4 linked regions of the Homo sapiens genome follow. The protein of the gene in region 3 binds, or shares a complex with, the protein of the main gene of each other region. Each region holds a gene or a part of one and is shown on either strand. Other genes may lie near its edges. The genes, in order: POLR2B, GTF2A1, GTF2F2 and GTF2H5.

Region 1 (8,040 bases), on a different chromosome or scaffold from region 3:
CATTTATCAATTGAGAAGTCGCTGTCAATCTTAGAGCTATCTTAATGTAGTAGCATGAGTAGAAACATATTGTAATCAGTTGAAAAGCACATGAAAGATGAAAATTAGAAACAAGGACAGCTTATTATTTTTATAAGTTTGGCTGTGAGTGAAAGAAGAAAGGTAAAATACTAGAAGAAAAAGGTAACAATGAAAAGAATTTAACTTGTTTCCATGTGGATGACAGAAATCTGACATTTTCACATAGTGACTGAAAACTGATGAGGACGTTATCTAATAAACATTTCAGAGGACATGGGCAATAAAATGTAGGTTCACTGCTAAAGCAACCCTGATAAACTCTTTTTCCACAGGATCATTATACATTGCTAATAAGAATGCAAAATTAGTACAATCACCACTATGGTGGTCACTTGGCATCATCTAGCAAAATGTTAAACGTGCATATCATTTGACCTGACAATTTTATATGTAGAAATGTATCCCACAGACATACTTGGGCAAATTATACGTACAAGATTATTCATTTACAGCACTGTTTGAACCCGAAAATGACTAGAAATAAACCGAATATCCATCAAGAGACTACTTAAGTTATGGTACATCCACACAAACTAAGTAACTGGGGGTGGGGACACGGGAGGGGGGGCGCGATGCTTTCTGTGTACTGATACGAAAATCTCCTGGACACATTAAACAAAATCTAAAAGTGGAGAAAAGTGTGAATATTACTGTCTTTAAAAAAAGAGAAAATCCCATTTATATTTGCTTAAATATGCATAAGGAAACTGTGGAGGCTGGGCTTGGAGGTTCACACCTGCAATCCCAGCACTTTCGGAGGCCGAGGCAGGTGAATCACCTGAGGTCAGGAGTTTGAGATCAGCCTGGCCAACGTGGAGAAACCATCTCTACTAAAAATACTAAAATTAGCTGGGCACGGTGGTGTACGCCTGTAATCTCAGCTACTCGGGAGGCTGAGGCAGGAGAACTGCTTGAACCTGGGAGATGGAGGTTACAGTGAGCCGAGATTGCGCCACCACACTCAAGCCTGGGCAACAGAGCAAGACCATCAAAAAAAAAAAAAGAAACTGTGGAGTGATAAGAACCTCTTATAACTGTTATAACTGTAGTTACCCACTGTGGAGAGTTCAAACTGGGCAGATGGTGGGTAAGAAGGAGACGTGACACTTTAACTTGTTTTTTTTGAGACAAGGTCTCACTTTGTTCTCAGCTCATAGCAGTGTCAACTTCCCAGGCTCAAGCGATCCTCCAGCCTCAGCCCCACAAGTAGCTGGGACTATAGGTGAGCAAGACCACGCCCAGCTAATTTTTCTATTTCTTATAGAGAGGGGTCTCCCATGTTGCCCAGGCTGCTCTCGAACTCCTGAGCTCAAGTAATCCACCCGCCTCAGACTCCCAAAATGCTGGGATAACAGGCGTGAGCCACTGCACCAGCCACCCCACTTTAACATTTTTAAATTTTCTGGCTTGTGAGCTATGAGAATATATTACCCAGCCAAAAATTATGCTTTAAAAATCTTTTTTTTCGAATTTTTCTTCTACTGAGATAGTAGTTAAAAAAGAACAAGGAATATAATGATGCTAATAAATTTCTACAACACAAGATATAAATGAGACAGAAGTTTAAACAGCTTTAAAAGTTTAAGCTTTTGGCTGGGCACATTGGCTCATGCTTGTAATCCCAGCACTTTGGGAGGCCGAGACAGGCAGATGGTTTGACCTCAGGAGTTTGAGACCAGCCTGGGCAACATGGCCAGACCCCATCTCTTAAAAAAAAAAAAAAAAAATTAAGCTTTTGCTTCAATTTTTTCCATCTGATTTATCAGAAGTACCTGAGGGAATAGAGAGAGGAGATGTAGGGGGTGGCCAAGGAATTGAGAGCTATAAGAAAATAAGGTTTGAATTAGCAGATATGGAGAATGGAAAAGGCGGCTACGAAAATACACTAGACTCAACTAAGAATTTTTTTTTTTTTTTTTTGAGACAGTCTAACTCTGTCACTCAGGCTGTGGTGTAGTGGTGCGATCTCAGCTCACTGCAAACTCCGCCTCCTGGGCTCAAGCGATCGTCCGGCCTCAGCCTCCCGAGTAGCTGGGATTACAGGCGCACGCCATCACACTAGGCTAATTTTTGTATTTTTAGTAGATACAGGATTTCCCCATGTTTGTCAGGTTGGTCTCAAGCGATCTGCACATCTCGGCCTCCCAAAGTGCTGACGGGAGCCACCGCGCTCGGCCACTACTAAGAATTCCATATGCGCAAACAAACAGGTATTATACATTGGCCCAGTGCAGCAGAATACATATCATCTGAGAACTGTGACATTGTGAGAAGAGGAAGTTAAAAGTCATCCTTTAAGACAATTTACTTTGACTTACAAACAGTATGAAGAAATGTCAGACTAAACCGAGTCCCCCCCGCCACCCCCACCCCCCGATATTCTCTGTCCCGGAATATTTCCAGGACCTTCCACACTGCCTGACACAGGCTGACACTCAACAATTGAGCTATTCGTTAAGTCGACTGTGGCTTTAAGGAAAATTTTTAAAGGGTGCCCTTTGCTTCAAATTCAAAACGTAATTTATCTTACGATTCTGCACGCTACTTCACCACAGGAAACGAGGATCAGATCTAACGGAACGAGAAAGTGCAGAGAGCAGCAGTGAACGTAACCTGGAACATTAACACTATGTTCCCTGCACCCTCCGCCTCTCCCTACCCCAGTTTCGTTCCCGGCCTGGTAAGTGTGGGAACAAGGCTGGGGACTGTGCAGCCGGCGCATGGGAAGGCCCCAAATCCTCAATCCAATCAGTTCCCAACGCTTTCCTGCTTAAATGGACCGCCACGGCGTGTGTTTTGAGCGTTCACCTACCCTCATCCGCGTCGTACATATTGCCAAACGGTTCTCGAGCTCCTAACTCTTGAAATCAAAAGACAAAAACCGCCCAGAAGCCAGCAGCGCCAGGAGCTAAAGACGAAGTAACTTCCGTCTCCGACGTTCCCAGAATACCACGCGTCTCACACCAAAGGCCGCCCACAGGGACGCCAAAGTTAGGATCTGCGCCTGCGCAAATTGTAGGTCAAGCTTGGGCCGGGGTTAGGGTTGCACACGCGTAAATTGTGGGCCGCCGCTGCCGGGCTGATTGAGAGGACAGCTCCCGCAATCTGCGGTCGTATCCGTTCCGTCAATGTTTTATTTCTGCTTGTTTTTCAATGTTGTTGCACAAATAACGACACCTGAAAACAAAACCAGGTATACTTATTATTAAAAAGTGTTCGTCCTGTGAATCCGCAACATTGGGATGCTCAATTTATTTGCCTTTATAAGGACCAAAACACGAAGCTATTTTTTATTTTTATTTATTTATTATTTTTTGAAATGGAGTCTCGCTCTGTCGCCCAGGCTGGAGTGCAGTGGAGCGATCTCGGCTCACTGCAACCTCCGTCTCCCGGGTTCAAGCGATTCTCCTGCCTCGGCCTCCCAAATAGCTGGGATTACAGGCAAGGGTCACCACGCCCGGGTAATTTTTGTATTTTTAGTAGAGACGGGGTTTCACCACGTTGGCCAGGCTGGTCTCGAACTGCTGACCTCAGGTGATCCACCCGCCTCGGCCTCCCAAAGTGCTGGGATTACAGGCGTGAGCCACGCGCCCGGCCGGAAGCTCCTTTCTGTTTTTGTTTTGTTTTGTTTTTTTGAGACAGGCTCGCTCTGTCGCCCAGGCTGGAGTGCAGTGGCGCGATCTCGGCTCACTGCAACCTCCGCCTCCCGCGTTCAAGCCATTCTCCTGCCTCAGCCTCCCGAGTAGCTGGGACTACAGGCGCCCGCCACCACGCCTGGCTAATTTTTTGTATTTTTAGCAGAGATGGGGGTTTCACCGTGTAAGCCAGGATGGTCTCGATCTCCTGACCTCATGATCCGCCCGCCTCGGCCTCCCAAATTGCTGGGATTACAGGCGTGAGCCACCGCGCCCGACCCCGGAAGCTCCTTTTTAAGTGTGATTTATTAAGGGCGGCTTGTGCTAGCAGTGAGGCGTTAAGCCTGAAAGTGAAAAAACCCAAAACACTCACTGCTCTTTTCTGCCCACCTAGCTCAATCCTCCAGTGCCTTTGCCATAGCTTTAAGTAGGTTCTCAGTCTCAGAGCTTAAATCGCGAGAACTGACGGGATTAGACGCAAAACCAACCAGGACAGCTCCCAAGTACCCACGCGCTTTCGTCTCGGGTCAAATGCGCGCCTCGGACCCTAGTGCGCGTGCGCGCTGGTGGCTCCGCCCCTTTGGAGCTACTTCCTCATGCTGCCCGCTCGCCTACCGTTCAGGCTGCTGAGCCTTTTCCTTCGTGGATCCGCTCCCACGGCAGCGCGCCATGGCCTCCGGGAGCCGCTCCTGGAGAGGAGGTGCGCTGCCGCCTCCTCCTTCCAGCACTCATCGAGTCTGGGACGCGAGCTTCCTTATGACCCCGTGGACACGGAGGGCTTTGGAGAAGGTGGTGACATGCAGGAGCGTTTTCTGTTCCCGGAGTACATCCTGGATCCGGAGCCGCAACCCACCCGCGAAAAGCAGCTGCAGGAGCTCCAGCAACAGCAGGAGGAGGAGGAGCGACAGAGGCAGCAGCGGCGGGAGGAGCGGCGACAGCAAAACCTACGGGCCAGGTCCCGGGAGCACCCGGTCGTGGGGCACCCGGACCCGGCATTGCCGCCCAGCGGCGTGAACTGCTCGGGCTGTGGGGCAGAGCTGCACTGCCAGGACGCCGGAGTGCCCGGCTACCTGCCCCGAGAGAAGTTCCTCCGCACGGCGGAGGCAGACGGCGGGCTGGCACGGACCGTGTGCCAGCGCTGCTGGCTGCTGTCGCACCACCGGCGCGCTCTACGCCTGCAGGTGAGCCGCGAGCAGTACCTGGAGCTGGTGAGCGCCGCGTTGCGGCGGCCCGGCCCCTCCCTGGTGCTCTACATGGTGGACCTGCTGGACCTGCCCGACGCCCTGCTGCCCGACTTGCCCGCGCTGGTGGGCCCCAAGCAGCTGATCGTGCTGGGAAACAAAGTGGACCTCCTGCCCCAGGATGCTCCTGGCTACCGGCAGAGGCTGCGGGAGCGACTGTGGGAGGACTGTGCCCGCGCCGGGCTCCTGCTGGCCCCTGGCCACCAAGGGCCACAGCGCCCCGTCAAGGACGAGCCACAGGACGGGGAGAATCCGAATCCGCCGAACTGGTCCCGCACAGTGGTCAGGGACGTGCGGCTGATCAGCGCCAAGACCGGCTATGGAGTGGAAGAGTTGATCTCTGCCCTTCAGCGCTCCTGGCGCTACCGTGGGGACGTCTACTTAGTGGGCGCCACCAACGCCGGCAAATCCACTCTCTTTAACACGCTCCTGGAGTCCGATTACTGCACTGCCAAGGGCTCCGAGGCCATCGACAGAGCCACCATCTCCCCTTGGCCAGGTGAGTTTTAGGAGGCTCGCCCTCTTCGTTTCCTGGCAAGGTGGACGTCTGGTCCTGGCCGAGGCACCGAGTACATCCTCCCTTAATGTCCACTGCGGGCTGCCTGTACCCTTCCCTTTACAAATTCTCTCCCCACTCTGGTCACACCTCTCTTCTGTGTCAGCTTACTGCTAGGGAAAATTGAGGATGTGTTGTAGTAATTTTCAATGGAAGTGTTTATGGAGCACGTCTCTGTTCCCAGTCACTAAGCACTGGAGATAGACCAGGGAACAAAGCAAAGTTCCTGTTCTGGAGATTTGCTTTGTAACTTCTTTGTATATTGTTCCAGAAAGTGTGCGTCCTTTTTACTGTCTGAACCTAATGAACTTTGTGTTTTGTTTGTTTGTTTTGTTTTGGAGACAGAGTCTCACTCTGTCGCCCAGGCTGGAGTGCAGTGGCGTGATCTCGGCTCACTGCAACCTCCGCCTCCCGGGTTCAAGTGATTCTCCTGCCTCAGCCTCCCTAGTAGCTGGGATTCGAGGCATGCGCCACCACACCAAGCTAATTTTTGTGTTTGTTTTGTTTTGTTTTTTGAGACGGAGTCTTGTCTTGCTCTGTTGCCCAGGCTAGAGTGCAGTGGCTCACTGTAACCTCCGCCTCCCGGGTTCCAGTGATTCTCCTCCCTCAGCCTCCTGAGTAGCTGGGATTACAGGCGCACGCCACTATGCCCAGCTAATTTTTATATTTTTAGTAGAGACGGGGTTTCACTATGTTGGTCAGGCTGGTCTCAAACCCCTGACCTCGTGATCCGCCCGCCTCAGCATCCCAAAGTGCTGGGATTACAGGTGTGAGCCACCGCGCTTGGCCTAATTTTTGTATTTTCAGTAGAGATGGGGTTTCACCTTGTTGGCCAGGCTGGTCTGGAACTCTTGGCCTCCCAAAGCGCTGGGATTACAGGCAAGCACCACCATGCCCAGCTAATTTTTGTATCTTTGGTAGAGACAGGGTTTCAACATGTTGGCCAGGCAGGTCTCCAACTCCTGACCTCACGTGATCTGCCCACCTCGTCCTCCCAAAGTGCTGGGATTACAGGTGTGAGCCACTGCTCCCAGCCCATTAGTGCAATTTGATGTGTGGCTTTGCCGGGCTCAGTGGCTCACATCTGTAATTCTAGCACTTTGGGAGGCCAAGGTGGGCAGATTGCTTGAGCTCAGGAGTTCAGGACCAGCCTGGGCAACATGGTGAAACCCTGTCTCTACTAAAGATACAAAAATTAGTCAGGCTGGTGGTGCGTGCCTGTAGTCCCAGCTACTCAGGAGGTTGAGGTGGGAGAATCACCTGAGCCTGGAAGGTTGAGGTGGCAGTGAGCCCTAATTGGGCCACTGCACTCCAATCCAGCCTGGACAACAGAGACCCAAAAAAACAGAAGTATCAGTCTTGTGACTTTAAGAAACTTCTGTGGCCAGGTGCAGTGGGTCACACCTGTAATCCGAGCACTTTGGGAGGCCAAGGTGGGCAGATCACCTGAGGTCAGGAGTTCCAGACCAGACCTGCCCACATGGTGAAACTCCCATGTCTACTAAAAATACAAAACTTAGCCGGGTTTGGTAGCTGGTGCCTGTAATCCCAGCTACTCAGGAGGCTGAGGGTGAAGAATCGCTTGAACCTGGGAGGCTGAGCCAAGATCACACCACTGCACTCCAGCCTGGGCAACAGAGCAAGACGCTGTCTCAAAAACAAGAAAGAAAGAAACAAACTTCTGTAATTAGAAAATGAGTCCTTCTATGGTTTAAATTTTTTTTTTTTTTTTTGAGACAGAGGCTCACTCTGTCGCCCAGGTTGGAGTGCAGTGGTGCGATCTCGCCTCACGGCAACCCTCACCTCCCAGGTTCAAGCGATTCTCCTGCCTCAGCCTCCCAAATAGCTGGACTACAAGTGTGCACCACCACACCCAGCTAATTTTTTGTATTTTTAGTAGAGACAGGGTTTCACCATGTTGGCAAGGCAGGTCTCGAACTCCTGACCTCAAGTGATCCACCCGCCTGGGCCTCCCAAAGTGCTGGGATTACAGGTGTGAGCCACTACGCTCAGCCAGGCTTAAATTTAAGTTGACAAAACTGACTGCCCCATTTGTTCCCTTGAAACCAAAGTTTCATTTAGTAAGCTGCTCTTCTCTGTCTTGCACTTTGAATTTTACAGAAAAATTACTTTTATACTGAATGGTAATGTGATAAAAATGGAAAGAAATCGGGCCTACAGATTTTGGATTCCAATTCTGGTTTCCCCTGTGAACTAATCTCTTAACCTATTTCCTCATTTGTAAAGTGGCAGTAATTTTATATTTTATTACAGTAACCAACACAGTGTAGATCCTCAAAAATGTTCATTTTCTTCCCCCTTATTCCCTTTTGTAAAGATGTATTTATTCTGTGTATTTCAGGTACTACATTAAACCTTCTGAAGTTTCCTATTTGCAACCCAACTCCTTACAGAATGTTTAAAAGGCATCAAAGACTTAAAAAAGATTCAACTCAAGCTGAAGAAGATCTTAGTGAGCAAGAACAAAATCAGCTTAATGTCCTCAAAAAGCATGGTTATGTCGTAG
Region 2 (7,430 bases), on a different chromosome or scaffold from region 3:
AGTCCAGGGCAGTAGATGGATTTCATTCAGAAGAGCAGCAGCTTCTACTGCAAGTTCAACAGCAGCATCAACCCCAGCAGCAGCAGCATCACCACCATCACCATCATCAGCAAGCTCAGCCTCAGCAGACAGTACCTCAGCAAGCGCAGACCCAGCAGGTTCTTATTCCTGCATCACAGCAAGGTGAGACTGGACTTGTTTTCCTACTTATGACTTGGAAATTAAGTTTGTCATTATGAAAGAAGAGAAATATTCTGCATTTTTTGGATCTTGTCTTTTAAGGGGCACATGGAGAACCTAAAAATAAACAAAAACCCCTCTGTTGATTTCGGGCTTTTTCCCCCCTTTCTCTTGGCTGAGGGATGTGTATGTAAATGTATATAAATTTGTATACAATGTAGGTTGTATCTGTAGAGTAATGGTAGACAAGTAATTTACTAATTGAAAGCCTAAGATATTCAGAGAAGTTATATTAATATTTTGTTTTGAAAAGGCTATATAGTGATGGATTTCCTAAGTTAAATCTAAAAGGTTTATTTACTAAGGGATTTATTATTTTATATGGTACAATAGTTATTTGCTTTCTCTATAAAACATGTTCTTTCAAAGACATGTTTCAGATTAGTTTTTAAAATATATCTTACATTCTGGAGTTTTTTGTATACTTTGGCAATCTGAAAATTCAGCTCCATAGGAATTTATGTAAGCCTAAATGGACTGAATTAGATTTATTTTAAGTTAAGAGTGGATATATAACATATCTTAATTTATATTACTTGGATTAAAGCTAAGAAAAAGCAAATATTCATAGACTGTGTCCATAGTGCCTTGTACTCTGCAAGTCATTTTATAGATACTGTTTCACTGGCATCTTATAAGGGCTTTGTAAAATAGCCCTTGGCTCAGTTTTACAGCTGAGGAAAATCTGAGCCCAGAAAAGGCTAAGAAACTTGATCTGTATTTTCTCTCATGACAAACATCTATTCAGTTATAAAACTTCCTGAGCATTCTAATTCAGTGCATCTGCTTTTATGGGAGAGGACACTAGAAGTAAATGAAAAGTTCATTTTAATATCATTTAGTTACTCATTTGCCTCATTTGACAGTATATATATGTGTCTTAAAATTGGTAATGACACACAGTAGAAGAGTATTTGGGTTATTTTACTGTTGATATCTAGTGGTACTTTTCATACCTAATTTTAATGTGTACTTTGTATCAAATAATTTTATCCTTTTATTCTTTTTTGATGACTGTTCTTCCTGTTGCCTTCAGACCTGGCATTAGGATTTTAGGTCATCATAAATTAAAATTTGATTTTCTTCACTCAGAGAATATTAGGATAATGGAGTTATCTGTTCTCTGAAATTTGCGGAATCAAACATGTAATTCCTTTTACGCTTAAGTAACATTGCCATTATTTCTGATTTGTATTTTTTCCGACTTTTGCCGGTTTACCACTCTTCAGGCAACCTGGTGGTCCCCTGCTTTCAGGAGGCCACCATATTGATGCCGAACTTATTTGGACACCTGATCAGCATAGCACATACAGCCCAGAACTCCTGGGCTCAAGTGATCCTCCCACCTTAGCCTCCTGAGTTGCTGGGACTACAGGCATGCATCCCTGCACCCGGCTGATTTGTATTTTTTAAACAGCTGATGAAAGTGGCATGAGTCTGTCAGCTGTCATATTTGGAAGAAAAGGACTATGTAGATTTCAAAAACTAGTCACAACTTTTTGAGCTTACTTTTATTGGATTAGTAACTCATTGTAACAGTGGTATCATTGTATCAGTAAAACAGTTAACCTTGAGTTAAGACAAAATTATGTTTGAAAATGTCCAGTTTACTTAAGAATGCATAGAACTATTTATGTTTAGATGTTAAGGTAACTCACTACTTCATGTTCCTAAATTCCCTTGCATCCTTAGGAATTGCCACTTAATTTTTTTTTTTTGATATGGAACCTTGTCACCCATGTTAGAGTGCAGTGGCGTGATCTCAGCTTACTGCAACCTCCAGTTCCGGAGTTCAAGTGATTCTCATGCCTCAGCCTGACACCCAACTAATTTTTTTGTATTTTTAGTAGAGATGGGGTTTCACCATATTGGCCAGTCTGGTCTTGAACTCCTGACCTCAAGTGATCCACCCGCCTTGGCCTCCCAAAGTGCTGTAATTACAGGTGTGAGCCACCACGCCTGGGCTTAAATATTTTTTAATGTTTTCTAGTATAGGGTGGGTATATCACAGCTGTTATTTGCCATATACATTTATAATGTCCTGAGATGAAATGATTGAAAGCATTTGAGTGCAGAAAACATGAAAAACATGAAAAAAGTTTTCATCATTGTATGTAAAGTGTTCTTGTGATTATAAAATAGCCTCATGGTTCCTTGTTTGCATGTTCGCTTGTTTTTTTGTAGCCACAGCACCACAAGTTATTGTTCCAGATTCTAAGTTGATACAGCATATGAATGCATCAAACATGGTAAGACTCAGAATGTAGCAGTTTGATTGGCTGTACTTAATTCTAACCCACATTGTAATTATGCCTATATATGTCCTATATTAACTACTTGAAGTTTATTGAAGACTCAAGCAAAACAGCTGTTTTAGTTTCCTGAATATTGGATCTGAAGTTTAGCTTGGTACCTAGACATTAAGGTTCATAAAATTACGGAATTGTTTAAGAATACCAAAAGAATGGTGCTTTGTGAGAGTTATTCCATTCCCTACTATTTCCGAAAAAGTTTTAGGGTACCTACCAAGCTTATAATGCCAAGTATGGTTCTGTTTCAGGAGACCTAGTAATTGCAAGAGGGTGGGAAGGCTAAGAATTGTGAACTTTTAAAAAATGAAGATAGACTGGATAGTTCAGTATAACTATTTTTAAAATCAAGCATTTAAAAATATTACTCTGACTTAACCATAGTATAGTCTAATAAGTCATTATAGTGTGTAAATTACCACAGAATACATTTTAACCAGCTGAGTTATATTAGAATTTTTATATTTCTGAGGACTATCCACTAAACTTTACAAGTCCTCACTCATATTTTCAAATTACATTTCAGACATATAATATTTCTCAACAAATGTAGTATAGGTTAACTGTAAACTTGAAAGAACCTCTTCAGATCCTTAGAAAATCTTTACCTATATCCTTGAAGTTGTTTTTTGTTTTTTTTTTTTTTTTGGATAAAACATTAAAATATAGTCAGATTAGAGTAGTTCAATACTTCCTTATAAATGGTTTTTCTTTATTCTGTTTAAAATATACAGACTGTTGATTTCATTGAGTGGTGACTCAGCTCTTACATTTCATTCTTCAGCCAAAACTTTTATTTAAAGGTGAAAGAATCAATATTTGTAAAAAGATCTTTTAACCTATGTAACTAGTTAGTACTAGAAATGAGATTTTTTTTTCCCTCCGTTCAAGTTTTTTTTTTTTTTTGAAGATGGAGTCTTACCCTGTCACCCAGGCTGGAGTGCAGTGGTGTGATCTTGGCTAACTGCAACCTCCGCCTCCTAGGTTCAAGTGATCCTCCCACCTCAGCCTCCTGAGTAGCTGGGAGTACAGGTGTATGTCACCACACCTGGCTAATTTTTTTGTACTTTTAGTAGAGACAGGGTTTCACCATGTTGGCCAGGCTGGTCGCCCAACTCCTCACCTCAAGCGATCTGCCCACCTCGGCCTCCTGAAGTGTTAGGATTACAGGTGTGAGCCACCACGCCCAGCCTCAAGTTTTTTTTTAAACCAAAAAGCAGTGTATGAAAAGATGAGTTCTACTTTGTGAGTGATACTGAATCACAAAGTTCATTTGTGGTTTATAAGCCAGATAAGAAGGGCTTACCCACTAGACAGATGACTTCCTCCTACACATTACCAGCCTCACAAATTCATACTGTGGCAGAATTGAAAGTTTCTACATGATAGTAGAAATTGCAGTTTTTAAATTCACAAATATCGAGGATCTCTGTTTGTACTTGTAGTTGCAGTTTCTAGAATCTTTTCGTTTACATGAAAATAAAAAATTTCATGCCTGTTATTTCTCACAAGATTTTTTATTGGAAAAAACTCCATTTTAAGTCTAAGGCCCCAATTTTTTTTAACCTCCACCCTTAAAAAAAAAAAAGTCTCACTATATGTTGCTTATTGTAGTTGATGTTATTAAGACTATATCCTAGGGAATAACTCACATTATTTTAAAACAAATTTTGGCAGAGTCTCTTGTGGTAGGCCCCTCTAAAAGAATTTTAAATGTTGTGGAAGAGAATTTTGAATTAGTAAGTTATTTCTGGGATAAAAATTAGTGGTCCATCTCTTACTTACTGGTTAAGTCTCCTTTATTCTAAAGAGCATATGTATTTAAACAAATCATAGGTCAGTTACTCAGGAAAATTGATTTAACATTTCTGTATATTTTACATTTTACTTTGTTGTTTTTAGTCAGTGTTTCCTTCATGTATTTCTGAACATAATCAGTATAGGCTCTGTACCAATAAAAGTGTTTTAGGTTTTTGTGGGTTTGCATTATTCTGATTTAGAAATAGCAAAAATATATTTGTTCTTTCTAATGGCTCTGTTTGCATTAGAAATGAACTAATCATAAAAACGTGAGATAATATAGTAGAAGGCTATTTCAGGGAACTTCTAGAAAACCATTGTTTTCGGTTCTTTTTTATGAAATGATTGGTCTAATGCATTATTTGTGTTTGGGCTGTTTTGTGGAATACAAGAAGAAATTTTAATAGTTATTAAGTATAAGGTGGTTAGTGTATGGTACATGACTCAGCAAATATATGTTATGCAGCTTGAATTTGTGGAGGGTGTGCAGGTAGTTATTGGGTCGTGTATTCTATATGGAAACTACTATGTCAGTTTGCTGGTAGAGGGAGAATTGCTGTCTTTCAAAATATGAATTATAGGCACTTAATATTTCTAAATATTTTTGTTTTTTTCTTTTTAAATATTTCTTAATAGTATGTGGTGGTTAATATTTTCCTTAAACTTAGATAACCTTTAATTTGCTTATATAGCCAAGTTTTATTTTAAATTGGGTAATTGAGTATCCAACTTAAATACGAATCACCCGGGTGGGCTATAGTTAAATTCTGGAGACACAGTGGGAATTTCAGGCCCAAGATGTAGAAATTACTTAGGTTTGTCAAGTGGCAACAAGTGTATTTTCTTGGAAAGCTATGTACCTAGAGCCCAGACTAGACAGTAGTTGAACTATTAACTCAGTTTAATAATTTTCTAAGTTTGTTGACTTCTCTGACACTAGCATTTCCAAAGCAGTTATATTTATTTTTTTAAGCTTTTTCAGATATGGGTAGTTCTAAAACTGTATAGGTTAGATTGAATGTATGAATGGTTGGTAGCTAAAGAAGATTGAAAAGAGAGGGAAAAAACTACCAAAATGTGTAGCTATAGCGGGATACAGGAAAATACTTAAAGTGCAGAATAAAAAACCAGAGAATGGCATAATTCTTTGCGGGAGGACAGGAGGAGAAAACTCTCCAGAACTCTCCAGGAAGTCAAGAATTTGTCCTGGATTTAAAGAAATTCATAATATAATCCCGTCTATATCTTTATAACTTAAGTGTCACATACTAACTTGATTTCAAAATGTTGAAACTAAAGTTTGTGACTATTGCCCAGGCTGGAGTGCAGTGGCACAATCTCGGCTCACTGCAACCTCCACCTTCAGGTTCAAGCCATCCTCCCACCTCACCCTCCCAAGTAGCTGGGACTACAGGTGTGCACCACCCTGCTCAGCTAATTTTTGTATTTTTTGTAGAAATGGGATTTCACCATATTGCCCAGGCTGGTCTCAAACTCCTGAGCTCAAGCGATCTGCCCACGTGGGCCTCCTAAAGTGCTGGGATTACAGGCGTGAGCCAGTCTGCCTGGTGTGACTTTTCTTAAGATTTACAGATTTTTTGTATTAATCTGTTATTAATGCATGTTTCACCTAGAATATAATGCCAGTATGTCCCTTTTTTCTTTGCTAATATGACATCTTAGAAGAATTGTCAGCTGTACTCCCAGTGAAGTCTTCTGATACAGTGTTCTTTATAGATATCTGTTGATTTTAGTAGAAATTTTAAAAGTTAAGAATTCTAAAAAGTAGATAATTATACTTTTATCTCAAGGAAATGGGGATAAGGAAACAGTGGGAAAGGAAGCAATAATGAAATAGCCATTTCATATATTGTACAGCATTGTTAATGTGGGTATTGTCTAAAAATGTGTAGGTTAGATTGAGTATAGGAAGGCTTGGTACCTTAAAGAAGATTGATGGGACAAGAAGGAAAAAAAAACTGCAGTACCTGTGAGATTTACTTAGAGCACCTTCTCTAGGGGAAAAAACCCAATTATATTGTTGTATTTAACTGCTTAAAATAATTTAGTAGGTTGGAGGCTAGGTTGGTCAGTCTTGTACCATTTTATAAAATGGGATTTAGCCTTACTAGATTTTTTAAATTTTGGTATATTCTAAACAAAAAGTTTCATACACTATTAAAATATGCTAGAGAGAAACAGTATTATACATGTATGTGGTTTTGATATTTTTTCTTTGTTTTTTTCAGAGTGCTGCTGCTACAGCTGCTACCTTAGCACTCCCTGCAGGTGTGACTCCTGTTCAGCAGATATTAACAAATTCAGGTAATTAGGAATGATGGAACCATTTTAAAATGTAATTCAGAAAATTGTACTATCTAGCCCTTAGGTTTTGTCTTCTTTGAAAGACAGAAAATACTAATATTTCTTTTACCATTTGGTTTAGGTTATTAAAATAACTTTATTTGAGGGCTGTAACACATATAACTGTAATCGTTGTTGAGGATACAGTAAAGAAGATGAAAATTGTACTTGAACCTTTGATCTGTGCATGATAACCCTATTATTGAAGTATGATTATATAAAAATGCTTACTTAGTTTTTTACTGAACACATTTAACATGCCAAGTGAGTATTAAACTTCTTTGAACTTGTGATATCAAAGTAATTCCTAGAGCATATTAAGAGCAAATTTATTGTATGCTATTATTATACATAGTATCTCTTCATTGACAAAAGACCAATGTCTAGCTCATGTGTTTTGGCATATTGGTGCTTGAAAAATTTATTTACATGGATTTTAAGTGTTCCCTATAATCTTGATTATATAGTTATTATTTATTTTCTATTCTGTGTATGTTATTTTTGTTAATTTGTAAATTTGTGAAATTAGGGGCTTGTCTTGCTACATATTTTAATAAGATGTAATTTGCTTTTTAATCAATTCAAGATTCTGGGTTGTCTAAAGGAACATATTGGGGGAATTTGATTCTGTGTGAATTGTATGACAATGATGATAACTGGTTCTGTGAACTTTTATTGCTTTTACCAATTTTGAAGCAAAGTTCTTTGGTGCTTTGT
Region 3 (7,430 bases):
GCAGTTTGGTGTTTCAAAGGGAGCAATTAGATAAAGTTTTTAATGGTTTATATCTTCAAAGGAAACACTATATATGCTTCTATTTGACAGATAAAATATGAAAAAAGCTAGAAATAACTCATTCAAGGTTAAAAATCAGAGTATCAGGGAGAAATAATAGGCCTCCTGTAATTTTCTATTTTTGAGGGGGGAAAAATCCAGAAGTTAAACCATATAAAAATACCTGCTGTGGTTTGTATATCTGTCCCTTCTAACACTCATGTTAAACTTAATTCTCAATGTGGCAGTAGTAAGAATTGGGCCTTTGAGAGGTGACTAGGTCATGGGGGTTCTGCCCATTCATAGATTAATGGGTTATCATGGGAGTGAAATTGGTGGCTTTATAAAAAGAGGGAGAGGAAGAGAGACCTGAGCTAGCACGCTCAGCCTCCTCACTAAGCGATGTAAAAAGCCTCTTACCAGACGTGGCCCTTTGATCCTGGACTTCTCAGCCTCCAAAATTTTAAGAAACAAATTATTTTGCTTTAAAAATTGCCCAGCTTCAGGTATTCTGTTATAAGTAACAAAAAACAGACTAAGATAATATATCTTTAAATGGATACTATGTCCCCGACTTTATATCAGTTACCAAAGCTTGGCCTCCTTGATGAGTAACTTTCACTCTTTCTAGTTGCTTATGTAAGTCACATACTGGCAAACAAGAGAAAAAGACGGGCCCTAAGCAAAGTTTCTCTAGCCAATAATTTTACTTATAGAAATGAAGGTTTTGGCCAGGAACGGTAGCTCACGTGTAATCTCAGCACTTCGGGAGGCTGAGGCATGTAGATCACCTGAGGTCAGGAGTTCAAGACCAGCCTTGTCAACATGGTGAAACCTCATCTCTACTAAAAATCCAAAAATTAGCCAGGTGTGGTGGTGGGCGCCTATAATCCCAGCTACTCAGGAGGCTGAGGCAGGAGAATCGCTTGAACTCGGGAGGTGGAGGTTGCAGTGAGCAGAGATTGTGCCATTGCACTCCAGCCTGGGCAACAAGAGCAAAACTCCATCTCAAAAACAAACAAACAAAACACCCCACCCCCAAAATAAATTATAATTTGAACATATTGGTAAATTTTATATTATTACATATGTTAAGTGAACTAAATATAAGTAATGTATTAAATGTATTTAAGTACCTTGTCCAGGACTATTTGGCTAAATGGTAGAGCTGGGACTTGAACTAGGATCTCATACTCCAAATCCAGGTTCTTTCCATTATACCAGAACACCCCCTTTCCTGGACCATTGATCTTCATGCTAGAATAGATTCCTCAAGTCTCTTGGGTACTGATGACCATTAGTACAGATTCACTTATGTCCTCGAATCCTTTTAAAGGGGGATAGTTGCCTACTTGGGGGAGAGCTAGACTTTGGCAACTTTCTTTCCCAGTCAATGGACTGGAATCCATGCTGACCACTTCCTGCCCTCTCCTCTAGGAGGAGGTAACTACCTCTGGCCTACCCCCAGCCTGGGGAAGGCATTCCACACTTTCTTGGCACTGGCTCTTTGCCCCAACCTCACTATAAATGACGTGAGAGGCCTGCCAAAATCCATCTGAAGAAAATATGGTGGCCCTTGGAGACTGAGGATTTTCTTTTTTCAAATCAATTCATGAGATATTTGCTGAATTTTTACCATCTTTTACACTATGGGGTATATGAATATTTAGGGATAGGAATAGCATACAACTCTGCCTTCAGGAATCTTATGCTTATTGAGGCAATTTAGTCTCTAAATAATAAAACTATTATTTAAAAAGTTAGTTTTGAGATCAGCGGCTTCTATGAGAATCTGATACAAACTATGGATGATATGTTCCCCAGAACAATTCATACATTTTTGCAGATTTTCAGGAAGTTAATGGATCCCCTTAAGTCCATCCACTGGTTAGGAATTAAGAAGCTCTGTTGTAAGAGATTCACTGAGTACTACCATATAAAAAATATCTTAAGAACCAAAACCAAAAGACACACTAGTAATACTTGTTCTTTGATGCAAAATGAATAAACCTTATATCCCATGTGAAGGCAAAGAAACTGCTTTCCCTAGTATCATCTGAATGCCCCTCTACAAGTGATTATTTTCCATATCTAATTTTTTGTGTTTAATTCCATGAGAATCTCGTCTGTTTTCAGAGTTTCTGGAAGGGTCTTTTCATACAGATATATTTATATATATAAATACAAAGATAAATTTCATTAAAACCAGAAGAAACACAGCTTAGCTAATGAGTTATTTATTCTATTTCAAAAAAAATTTTTAATCTAGCTTAGAATGCTGTTTCTAAGGCTTTGATGCCAAAGGGAGTGAAGTCATTGGGATGAATTGATAATACTCCACCATGAGCACTTTCTTCTTATTAAAAAGTAAATCTTTTGGAATTCAAATTAATTTCTTAACAAAAGGCAAGGGTTGATGTATAATAGTAAAGAAATATCTGCAGGAGAAACTGTATAATGAACATTAAAATTTCATAAATCATTTCCTAAAGCTTTGTATAAATAAAAAAAATCAAGTCCTTTCACAAATAGGTTATTTGGTTATGTTAAGATGTTTTTTAAAATTGGTTATTGTTACATATTCTGAATCCAATAAATGGAGCAGCAAGAATCAACAGATTCTTGAGTATACCGGCAGAGTAGACAAAATGGTAAAGGAAATGAGATAAAAGGGTTTCCATTCAATTTTCTTAAACCTATAAGTAAATACTCAGTCTGATACTTTGGTGACATGTGGTGGAGAAAGTTAAATGGAAAACAATGTGACTCAAAGACTAGAAAAAGAATTTGAATTTCTTATTGTTATCATCATTTTAAATGGATTATTAATGCAAATTACTAGTAAATGCACAAAAGCCTAGAGAAGAGATAAAAATGACTATAAAACAAACATAAACTTTCTAAAATACGAATTTGTTAAATTTGTCCTTAAAAATGGGGAACAGGCCAACCTAATCACAATCTCTGCAAGCATAATTTGAAAGTGCAGTTCAGTTCAGGTTTAAAAGGACCTACACAGATTCTAATTAAAAAAAAAAAAAAAAAAAATCCACAGAAAACAATTCACAAGACAGGGATAAACCCTCCCACAATGACAAAACAGTATAATTCTTTAAAGAATGCGATTTTTCTATGAGGCATGTTTTCCAAAAAAAGGGAAGGAGTTAAACTTTCTCAGAGGAAGATAGGGAAACAAAATAAAGACCAGAAATGGTATCAACAGATTTCAGGCTTAATGTCAAGAATAAATGAACATGAGGATAATTTCTTTTCTTCATAAATAATTATTAAGAGTACTAAAATGTAAAATAAAAGCTGATGTTACCAAAAATGGCTGCATTAAGACATCTTTTCTGAGTGTTGTCATAAAATTAGTCATTAGCATAGGTAAATGTGAACTAAATCATGTATGACACACTTTCAGTAATGTCGTGTTAATGAAGGAGGGCATATTCAAAGGATCAGTATGAACATATACATACCACAGGTTGCTTTGTGATGTCCACCAAGTCCTTAAGATTATAGTATTGATGTTTCTCAAAGGCTGAAAATAGCATGTCTAAAACATGTTGTTTATCAGCTCGAGCTCGCTTTCCGTCTTCTTTCTTTTTCCTTTCATATTCGATCTATATGCAAACAGCAAAGGAAATAAAAGCATCAATTCAACATGCTCACTCTAAAACACAGGCATTCTCTTTTTTTTTTTTTTGAGACAGAGTTTTGCTCTTGTTGCCCAGGCTGGAGTGCAGTGGCATGATCTCAGCTCACTGCAACCCCCACCTCCTGGGTTCAAGTGATTCTCCTGCCTCAGCCTCCCGAGTAGCTGGGATTACAGGTGCCCGCCACTACGCCTGGCTAATTTTTTGTATTTTTGGTAGAGACGGGGTTTCACCATGTTGGCCAGGCTGGCCTGGAACTCCTGACCTCAGGTGATCCACCTGCCTCAGCCTCCCAAAGTGTCGGGATAACAGGTGTGAGCCACCGTGCTTGCCCAGGCATTCTCTTTTGAGTCATCCATTAACGACTAGATCGTAAGTTTCGAGGCAGCAGGCCTCTGAACAGTAGTTCAGAACCTGGGACCTGTTACTCCTGGGGTCCCCGTATCTTTAAGGCTCTAAGTTAGTAATAATTCCAGTCACTTTCATTATCCCCTAAAGCTTTATGTAATGCATAATGTGTACATTTCCCCCCAAAAAGGCCTTTTGCCAAAACTGTATCAATTCAGTGCGGTTAACTGGTTATCTTGTGTTGATCGAAAACTCTAACGTGTAGTGCTTTTGTTTTTGATTAACAGTAAAACAGTTTATCTAACAGATGCAGTTTCATAGGTAACATCTTTCAAATGTGGGGTTCTTGGAGGCAGGCAGATTATAAAACGGGTTCTTTACGGAGTGAAAAGTTTGGGAAGCATTGGTAAAAAGGAAAGGACATGGACCTTTTCTCATCCTGACCCTGTGCAACCTCCTTGAACCTGTTTCTCTTCCCATACAATAAAAGTTAGTTTAACAAGAGAAAGGGGTAATTATATACTTATCATCTCAGACACAAGCAAACCATTTTTCTGAAATTCCCATTTAAAACTTCATGTGACCTCTAAATTCACCTGTATAATACATCTTTATTTTTTAACATGAAGTAAAAAATACAGTATCTACTATCCAAATAAAAATGACACTTCAGGACCATGTGTTATGTTTATTCTGCAGTTTTGTGTACCTCCATGCATGCCAGCTTAAAAAGCAGTGGCACTAACACAATGAAGAAGTTCCCTCCTACTGTTACCATCCTGGGACTGTTCAATTGTAAAACATCACCCTTTTTACTTAAAATATGCAAGTTCTGTTCTATTACTTAGTTAATTGAGATATTTGTTTGTTTCTTTTTAGGAACACTTCACTTGTATAAACCATCAGAAACTTGTTGAAGGGGCCAACCTGGTGAAGAAAGCATCAGTAGGTTGGGTGGAAACTGCCAGAGAAGAATGTCCTGTGGGTCAGCTGGAATAATTATAATCTGGGGACTAGCTTCGAAAACAATGGGATACATTTAAAAACTTACAAATAAATTATTCCACAAATAGCCTCAGGTAGTTAGCTTACTCTATTTTAACAATAAAGATTTGTTATAAAAGGATAAAATTTAGTTTCTATTGATTTATTGATATTAAAACTAAAAATATGTCTTATGAGAGACTGTCAAATTAGTGGTAAAAGGTAACTGAAAACCTTGAGTATCTACTTTTCAATTAAATAAAGTTGGGAGTGAGACAAAGGGAAAGGACTCAATCATCTTCATTTTTTGATATGTACGAACTGGGAGTAAAACTCAAACTCCACTGAGCTTCAGCAGATTAAGCATGACTATATGCTAGGCATTGCGCTAAGATATGGGGAGAGTAAGACAGCTTTTTCTTTCTAAAACGGCTTTAAATGGATTAAAATGATTAGAGAGGGGAGGGCCTTGAGCATTTTAAATGCAGTAATGGACAAAGAGCTACCTAGGACAAGATCACCATGCTTAAAAAAAATGCAAATGAATGACACAGATTGTATTGTTAGGGAAGACTGAAATCCAGCCAGTCTCAATTTTTTTTTTTTTTTGAAATGGTGTCTCACTCTATTGCCCAGGCTGGAGTGCAGTGGTGCAATCTCGGCTCACCACAACCTCCACCTCCTGGGTTCAAGTGATTTTCCTGCCTCAGCCTCCCGAGTAGCTGGGATTACAGGTGCGCACCACCATGCCCAGCTAATTTTTGTATTTTTAGTAGAGACAGGGTTTCACTATGTTGGCCAGGCTGGTCTCGAACTCCTAACCTCGTGATCCGCCCGCCTCGGCCTCCCAAAGTGCTAGGATTACAGGCGTGAGCCACCACGCCTGGCCTCAGTCTCAAGTTAAATTCAGGAAATAGCAGAGAAGTGATGGTATACTCAGTTTCCACCTTCAGTAGGCTGTTTCTTGTGTAAAATGATTGGAGAAGCTAGGAAGTTTAACATGAAAAATGTTTTCAAATAAGCCCACTGGTAAAGTAAGATAACCTACTTTACAGAGGGCGCACATTCTAGTTGGCTGTGGAGAGAAAACTTAAGTGTTGTTATCAAGTTGTCCCAACCCAGAGTCACATGTCAGATGCAAGAGGACCTGAATCAAAGGTAAAAATTAATAAATTAGAAAAGAACTTTAAAATCAACACTAGGGATAAGAGTAAGGGTCGGATTAAGTTGTAATTAGTAACATTAATGAGTAGTAAGAAAATTACCGAATTCTACCCAGATTTTTCAAAAATCATGGGGCCAGGCGCAGTGGCTCACGCCTGTAATCCCAGCAACTTTGGGAGGACAAAGTGGGCGGATCATTTGAGGTCAGGAGTTCAAGACCAGCACGGCCAAGTCTCTGCTAAAAATACAAAAAAATTAGCTGGGCGTGGTGGCACACGCCTGTATCTCCAGCTACTAGGGAGGCTGAGGCAGCAGAATCGCTTGAAGCCAGGAGACAGAGGTTGCAGTGAGCCAAGATCGTGCCACTACACTCCACTCTCAGCAACAGAGTGACTCTGTCTCAAAAAAATAAAAAAATAAAAAAATAAAAATAAAAAATAAAAAATAAAAAAAAAATCTTGGTTTACATGCTTCAATCTCAAATTGAAGTTAATGTTGGTGCTTTCTCTTTAAAATTAGAAAAACAGACTAAAAATATATGCTTATCTTTCTGTGTTAACATGTATATCACTGGTTTAGTTCCTGGGGGCACTGCAGCCTACCTCTACATTTGCCTAGTGAACAAAAACTGTTTTTTTTCTTCCTGTCCGAAATATTTGTTAATTGTTTACTTATCAAGACGAACTCTTTCTCAGCCTAGATATTCGTGTTTCATAGTTCACGAACACAAGTCAGTGACAAACTTCCATGTGATTCAATCCAAGCAAATTCTTTATATTCCCAAACCACTTTGCACTCTGAAAGATACCAGCCTTCCTCATCTCCTCAATATCTTTCATGGAATCCTAATTTCTGAAGAAATCTGCATATGCCTTATTTCTTGCTTCAGCACAGCAAACTTACAGAGAGCTGCAACCCCCAGGGATGCAATGAATGCTCCAACAACATAAAACCTCAGATGCATGGCGTTTGGTTTCATCAAAGCACTGGAAACCATGGTAGTTATTGTCCTTGACAGGCATATGTCAATCTTAAGTAATGAGATTCAGAAAATAAAATTAACTATATAGTTTATTCGAGCCCAAAGCTTGAGGATAGCCACCTGGAAGCATAGTTTCAAGGTATCCTGACTACATAATCTGTAGTAAACAAAAACTCTTAAAAATGTTGTCTGTAAGCCAGGTGCGGTGGCTCACGCCTGTAATCCCAGCACTTTGGGAGGCCGAGGTGGGCAGA
Region 4 (7,430 bases), on a different chromosome or scaffold from region 3:
CACAATGAGATACCATCTCACACCAGTTAGAATTGCGATCATTAAAAAGTCAGGAAACAACAGATGCTGGAGAGGTTGTGGAAAAATAGGAATGCTTTTTTTTTTTTTTTTTTTTTGAGATGGAGTCTCGCTCTGTCTCCCAGGCTGGAGTGCAGTGGCACAATCTTGGCTCACTGCAAGCTCCACCTCCTGGGTTCATGCCATTCTCCTGCCTCAGCCTCCTGAGTAGCCACCATGCCTGGCTAATTTTAATAGAGACGGGGTTTCACCGTGTTAGACAGGATGGTCTCGATCTCCTGACCTCGTGATCCGCCTGTCTTGGCCTCCCAAAGTGCTGGGATTACAGGGATTACAGGTGTGAGCCACCGCGCCCAGCCAGGAATGCTTTTACAATGTTGGTGGGAGTTCAACCATTGTGGAAGACAGCGTGGCGATTCCTTAAGGATCTAGAACTAGAAATACCATTTGACCCAGCAATCCCATTACTGGGCATATTCCCAGAGGATTATAAATCATTCTATGATAAAGACACATGCACATGTATGTTTATTGTGGCACTATTCACAATAGCTAAGACTTGGAACCAACCCAAATGTCCATCAATGATAGACTGGATTAAGAAAATGTGGCACATATACACCACGGAATACTATGCAGTCATAAAAAAGGATGAGTTCATGTCCTTTGTAGGGACATGGATGAAGCTGGAAACCATCATTTTCAGCAAACTATCACAAGATCAGAAAACCAAACACTGCATGTTCTCGCTCATAAGTGGGAGGTGAACAATGAGAACACATGGACACAGGGAGGCGATCATCACACACCAGGGCCTGTGGGGTGTTGGGGTCTAGGGGAGGGATAACATTAGGAGAAATACCTAGTGTAGGTGACGGGTAGATGGGTGCAGCAAACTACCATGGCACATGTATACCTATGTAACAAAACTGTACGTTCTGCACATTTAACCCAGAACTTAAAGTATGATAACCACTGCAACCACAGATGCTGACCACATACTGTACCCTTCATGTGCTTTACCCAGCGCAGCCTGCATACCTTATCCCTGATGTCAATTCCCATGCTTTGCCTAATCAAAAAGTCCCCATCAGCTTTTTTGGGGGTCAGCCGCAGAGTTCTTACTACTGTACTGTCTCCCTTGCATTTGTGGATAAACCCTGAAATAAAAGCCTCATCTGGGAAAACTGTATAGCTCTGTGTTAATTTTTATTACATAGGGAGCCAAAGAGCCTGTGATCTGTAACAGCAATGTTAGTACCATAGCTACACTGCAAAGTTGATGGACTACAGAATATTTCTAAAACATCTTGCTCATAGTAGGTACTCAAATGAGCAATTAAAATGCCAAGACCATGTGAGAGGATATAGGCAGAGAGGTTTAAATTACAATTAGTTCTATCCCTATCAAATGATTTACTGTTGGGAACAGGCACCCCAAAATCTGGCCATAAACTGGCCCCAAAACTAGCCATAAACAAAATCTCTGAAGCACTGTGACATGTTCATGATGGCCATGACACCCACGCTGGAAGGCTGTGGGTTTACTGGAATGAGGGCAAGGAACACCTGGCCCACCCAGGGCGGAAAACCGCTTAAAGGCTTTCTTAAACCACAAACAATAGCGTGAGTGATCTGTGCCTTAAGGACATGCTCCTGCTGCAGATAACTAGCCCAACCCATCCCTTTATTTTGGCCCATCCCTTTGTTTCCCATAAGGAATACTTTTAGGTAATCTATAATCTATAATCTATAGAAACAATGCTCATCCCTGGCTTGCTGTTAACAAATAAGTGGGTAAATCTCTGTTCGGGGCTCTCGGCTCTGAAGGCTGTGAGACCCCTGATTTCTCACCCCACACCTCTATATTTCTGTGTGTCTGTCTTTAATTCCTCTAGCGCTGCTGGGTTAGGGTCTCCCAGACCGAGCTGGTCTCGGCAATTTACTATTTCAATTACAAAACCATTAACCTATGAATATATATGGTATAATTCTAAGACATACGTATATCCTTTTAAAAAGCAAACATAGGCTGGGCGCAATGGCTCACATCTGTAATCCCAGCATTTTGGGAGGCCGAGGTGGGTGGATCACGAGGTCAGGAGTTCAAGACCAGCCTGGCCAAGATAGTGAAACCCCATCTCTACTAAAACTTCAAAAATTAGCCAGGCATGGTGGCAGGCACCTGTAATCCCAACTACTTGGGAGGCTGAAGCAGGAGAATCGTTTGAACCCAGGTGGCAGAGGCTGCAGTGAGCCAAGATTGTGCCACTGCACTCCAGGCTGGGTGACAGTGAGACTCCGTTTCAAAAAAAAAACAAAAGCAAACACAATATTATACTTAGTTTTATAATGGAGAGATAGTATATGTAACGTTTAGTAGCCTGGGCTCTGGAGCCAGAATACCGGGATTTAAAATCCCAGTTTAACAATAGCTATGTAACTGAGCAATTGATTAATTGATACAAAGTATCTCACTTTGTACATCCATAAATGGAGATGACAGCACTTACCTCAAAGGGCTGTTGTGAAAACTAAATTAATATTAGCAAGTGCTTAGTATAGCACATGTCACATGGAAAACAGCGTTAGTACAGGAATCCAGGTGTTTTCACTTAACATCATTGTACAGTGTCATTTCCCTGAATCACTTAAAATGTCTGCAAATATTTTAACAGCTATATTATTTGATTAAAATATGCCACAATCAACAAATTTCTTTTTCTAGCACATTAAATACATACATTTTTATTGGCAGTTCTGATCATTTCCTAAAATTTTTTTTTTTTTTGAAATGGGGTCTCACTGTGTTGCTCAGGCTGGAGTGCAGTGGCATGATCTTGGCTCACTGCAACCTCTGCCTCTTGGGTTCAAGTGATTCTCCTGCCTCAGCCTCCCCAGTAGCTGGGATTACAGGCGTCCACCACCATGCCCAGCTAATTTTTGTATTTTTAGTAGAGACAGGGTTTTACCATGTTGGCCAGGCTGGTCTCAAACTCCTGACCTCAAGCCATCCACCCGCCTCAGCCTCCTGAAGTGTTGGGATTACAGGCGTGAGCCACTGCACCCAGCGATTTCCTAAAGATAAACTTATAGAAACGGAGTTATTGTGTTAAAGGATATAAAAGCACAAAACACCCATCACAAGTTGCTTACAGTTGTTTCTTGGGATTACACTTCCATCAGCAGCTTGGTGGGGTGCTTGCTTTTTAAAAGCTATGACTGGAAGACAACAGCCTCCTCATTTAAAAGCTATTTTGATATACAACATGCTAAAAGGAGGCCTAGTATACACATCTGTTTCAAACTAAAACTTTAATTTATCAAGAATCCCATCTTATTCACTGTGAATCTCACTGTAGGAATAGAGAGGCTCTAAAGGAACATTAATAAATTTGGGATTTTGGCTGAGATCACAAACCTGGACTCAATTCTGTTAACAAAATTTATTCAGTACACAAATATTTACTAAGCCATATCTATATATGTGTATGTGTGTGTGTGTGTATACACACACACACACACACACACACACACACACACATCTCAGGCACAGTTTTGGGTGCCTGGAAAACTTCAGCGAACATGGCCCTACTAAGAGGCAAAGGCTGAGAAAAGATTTATACATGCTGAGAAAAAAACAGAACAATGGTTAGACTGGTTTTGCCATACTTCTTACTTCGCTTCTCATAAACGATATAGCTTTAGAAGCCAAACTCATAAGGATAAGTGTAGTTTAATAATACATATTTCTCCAGATTCTTTGCTATTGTGATGTAAACTGGTTGGAATTTGCACCTTGGCAACAAATCTTTGCTGAAGCACTTGCCAAACCAATTGTGGCAACTGTTATACCAGAGGTCTGCTCCAGCATCTGGAACTGGACACAGACATACTGTGGTCATGTGTTGCTTGCTTTGGTAATTGCTTGGTGGCTAGATTTGGGAGAATACTTAGTGTGAGCCTGGCAATTGATGGTGGATCCCAACAAAGAGGAAATTTTCACCAACCTTTCAGTTTTGACATAAAAGTGCAAATTTATAAACATAAAACTTCTTTTATAGCCTTCAATTTTAGTATTTGATAAGCCCTTGGGAGTTAAGATTATATCCAAGTGCCCTGATTTTTCAATTCTCTGAAGGTGAGAATAAATGGCCATCATCATAATTTGGTTTACTTCTTTAGCAAATCTCTGCAGACTCAAAATCAGTTAAACTTAACTGATAGAAATGGAGTTTAAATATGGCAGTTAAGTGAAGCCAATCTAAGATATATGTGGATCAGCACTATATAAGCTATTACACATCAGTTTCTATTAATACAATGATGGGACTGGAATTTGGAGAGATTCCTGGGACAGTGGAAGCAGCTGTGAGATAGGAATTCAGCAGGACTAGTTTCCAAGACAAGAGAGACAGTAAACAACAGGTCAGAAGACCCCACCGATAAGCGAGGATACAGTAAAGAAACCAGCCAGAACCAAGATGGCAACAAAAGCAACCTTCACCACTATCATACACAAATCATAATGCATGCGCACGCTAAAAACCACCCCCACCAGCACCACGACAGTTTACAAATGCCATGGCAATATCTAGAAGTTACCCCGTATGGTCTGGACTGGGGACTCCTGGTTCCACAGAATCCCTGCCTCTTTTCCAGAAAACTCACGAATAATCCACCCCTTGTTTAACATATACTCAAGAAATGGCCATAAAATAGCCAGTTAGCAGGCCCGCCTGCTTCCCACCCTCCCCACTCCACTCTGCCTATGGGGTAGCCACCCTTTTATTCCCTCATTTTTAATAAACTTGCTTTCACTTTACTCTGTGGCTCATTCTTGAATTCTTTCCTGCATGAAGCCAAAAACCAACTTGGCTTCCAGGGCTGAGCCTCAATTTTGGTATTCACCTGCAACAGCTGTAGAAGATCCTTGAGTGGTCTGCCTGTAAACTCCAGACCTATCAAATTCCATACTCCAATACACCTAAATGCTTCATACAATCCATGGATATTATGAAGTAATAAACAGACTTATACTGATAATCATATTATTAACAGGCTTCTCCTTGGCATCAAATATGGACATGAGGGAAACTGAAGGACTTTTCCAGTTACCATCCTAACATCTGCATCTAACTGTGAAAGGGAATCCACTAGCACTGGCCATACCCTTTCCTTTGGGAATCTATGTTATTTCTTAGGCCCAAAATCTTTTTGGAAGACTTGTGTTTTTGGGAAGACAGAGTTACCCTTTTGAAAAATTGTGCAGACTACACTTTAGAATTCACTTCAAAGGGAAAAATTAGTTTTGCAAGGATGGTACCTAACCTGCAAAATAAAATTTAATAGTCCTGGTGCAAAACACTTCTCCACAGGGAAACATTATTAAACTGAAGCTGATTAACAGTATTATTGCTTCTCAAAATTTAAATGCATCTTAACAAGATTCTTTGTATGCACAATTCTGATTTAGTAGATTTAGGGTGAGGTCTGAGATTTTGCATTTCTAACAAGCTCCAGATGATGCTATTACTGCTAGTCTGGGGATTACCCTGAAGTGCAAGGTGATGGACAGTCATTAGAGAGACCAGGTAGAATTCAGAGGTTAGATACGGGACAGCAAACCGGGCACTGAGACTTCAGAGTCTCCCCAGAGTTTTGTTCTTTAAGATGCAATCCAGTCATCTTTTTTTTCAAATTAAAACGTAGGTTTAATGCAATTCCAACCAATATGCCAAAAGGATTATTTTGGAAACAGACTAAGTTATTTCAAGGTTATTCTAGAATAGGCAACAAGAAAGATGAATGTGGGAAGGGATGAAAGAGAATAGCAAGGGGAGTAAAATTATGTGATTAAGGAGGCATCAAGCATCATTAAGAAAGGAAATAATGGTGGAGAACTAGATATTTGGCAAAATGAACAGACAAAAACACCCAAAACAAAAAAGAAGCTAGGCTGGGTGCAGTGGCTCATGCCTGTAATCCCAGCACTTTGGGAGGCCGGGGCAGGTGGATCATGAGGTCAAGAGATCGAGACCAGCCTGGCCAACATGGTGAAACCCCATTTCTACTAAAAATACAAAAATAAAATTAGCCGGGTGTGGTGGTGTGTGCCTGTAATCCCAGCTACTCGGGCAGCTGAGGCAGCAGTATCGCTTGAATCCAGGAGCCAAGATCGCGCCACTGCACTCCAACCTGGCAACAGAGCAAGACTCCGTGTCAAAAAAAAAAAAAAGAAGCTAATTTAGATCCTTATCTAATAATATGTCTCTTCTCTGAATAAATTCTAGATGAATGAATCTAACACACCAAGAAAAACACAAAATCCCCACAAGAGAGAAGTGAATATTTAACAAACCTATGCCACTCCTCCCAATAAATTCTAGATGAATGAATCTAAAACACCAAGAAAAACACAAAACCCTCAGAAGAGAGAAGTGAATATTTAACAAACCCAGGGGTGAAGATTAAACTTAGAATTGGAAGAAACGAGGGAAAAAAAGTGATAGCTGACACTCTGTGTATGTGTATCCTCTGTATTTAAAAATAACACTAAAGGCCAACGAGGAAAATGTTTATGTTATGTCAAATTAATAGGAAAATAAGTACATCAAACCTAGTGCCTTCAAAAGACAACAGAACAGTGTGTTTAGAACTTCTGGGGTCCAGATCCCACCCCCTTTGCTTTTCCAAGTGAATACCTCTCCCCCGCAGTGGTTTACTCTCATCAACGTACATTCTAGTCTTTCACATTAAAATAAAAATAGCAAGAACCTGAGCCCCTCACCATGTCCTTCGTCAGCTACCAATCCAGTTCTCTATGAGATTGCTCATGATCACAGTAAAACTTCTCCGAAGTCTCCATCTCCACCTCCTCACCTCCCTTTCCTTTTCCACAGTACTTCAATCTGGCATCTCCCCACCACTCCATTCAAATGGCTCTCATCAAAACTCCAGTCTTCATCTCATGCCAGTTCTCAATCAGTGCCCAACACAGCCGCTCATCCCTACAAAACACTTCCTCCTTTGGCTTTCCTCCCTCCAGCCTCACTGGCTATTTTCTTCTTAGTTGCCTTTGTTGGTGTCTCCTGTATCAAAACTCCAAATCTGCACTATGCATAAGGTAGCCCACTAGTCAGGTCACTACAGAGTCCTTGAAACACGGTTAGTCTGTGAGATGTGCTGTAAAATTAAAATATCCATTCGACTTTGAAGATGAAGATTTTTTTGAAGACTTAGTATGTGTTCAAAGCATAGTGTTTTGCATAGACAGGGTTAAACAAAAGATATTAACTTCACCTGTTTCATTTTACGTTACTTTTAAGATGGCTAGAAAAAATGTAAGACTATATCTGTGGCTTGCATTAGATTTCTATTGGCTAGTGCTGTTCTAAATGTTGGCAGTGTCC

Evidence for each region.
Region 1: GTF2F2 (region 3) and POLR2B share a complex: the UniProt entries of both Homo sapiens proteins name them as parts of the TBP-based Pol II pre-initiation complex.
Region 2: GTF2F2 (region 3) and GTF2A1 share a complex: the UniProt entries of both Homo sapiens proteins name them as parts of the TBP-based Pol II pre-initiation complex.
Region 4: GTF2F2 (region 3) and GTF2H5 share a complex: the UniProt entries of both Homo sapiens proteins name them as parts of the TBP-based Pol II pre-initiation complex.

The regions. Positions count from the first base shown.
Region 1 is NC_000004.12:56,973,858-56,981,897, reverse strand, and holds the start of POLR2B (DNA-directed RNA polymerase II subunit RPB2), read right to left. Parts: upstream 3,003-8,040; 5' UTR 2,913-3,002; coding exon 2,894-2,912; intron 1-2,893. Other genes in the region: NOA1 (nitric oxide-associated protein 1), read left to right, coding at 4,313-5,456, 7,876-8,040. UniProt on the Homo sapiens protein: Catalytic core component of RNA polymerase II (Pol II), a DNA-dependent RNA polymerase which synthesizes mRNA precursors and many functional non-coding RNAs using the four ribonucleoside triphosphates as substrates.
Region 2 is NC_000014.9:81,196,653-81,204,082, reverse strand, and holds part of GTF2A1 (transcription initiation factor IIA subunit 1), read left to right. Parts: coding exon 1-183; intron 184-1,248; exon of another isoform or gene 1,249-1,388; intron 1,389-2,424; coding exon 2,425-2,489; intron 2,490-6,598; coding exon 6,599-6,674; intron 6,675-7,430. UniProt on the Homo sapiens protein: TFIIA is a component of the transcription machinery of RNA polymerase II and plays an important role in transcriptional activation. TFIIA in a complex with TBP mediates transcriptional activity.
Region 3 is NC_000013.11:45,263,468-45,270,897, reverse strand, and holds part of GTF2F2 (general transcription factor IIF subunit 2), read right to left. Parts: intron 3,666-7,430; coding exon 3,522-3,665; intron 1-3,521. UniProt on the Homo sapiens protein: TFIIF is a general transcription initiation factor that binds to RNA polymerase II and helps to recruit it to the initiation complex in collaboration with TFIIB.
Region 4 is NC_000006.12:158,171,143-158,178,572, reverse strand, and holds part of GTF2H5 (general transcription factor IIH subunit 5), read right to left. Parts: intron 1-7,430. UniProt on the Homo sapiens protein: Component of the general transcription and DNA repair factor IIH (TFIIH) core complex, which is involved in general and transcription-coupled nucleotide excision repair (NER) of damaged DNA and, when complexed to CAK, in RNA transcription by RNA polymerase II.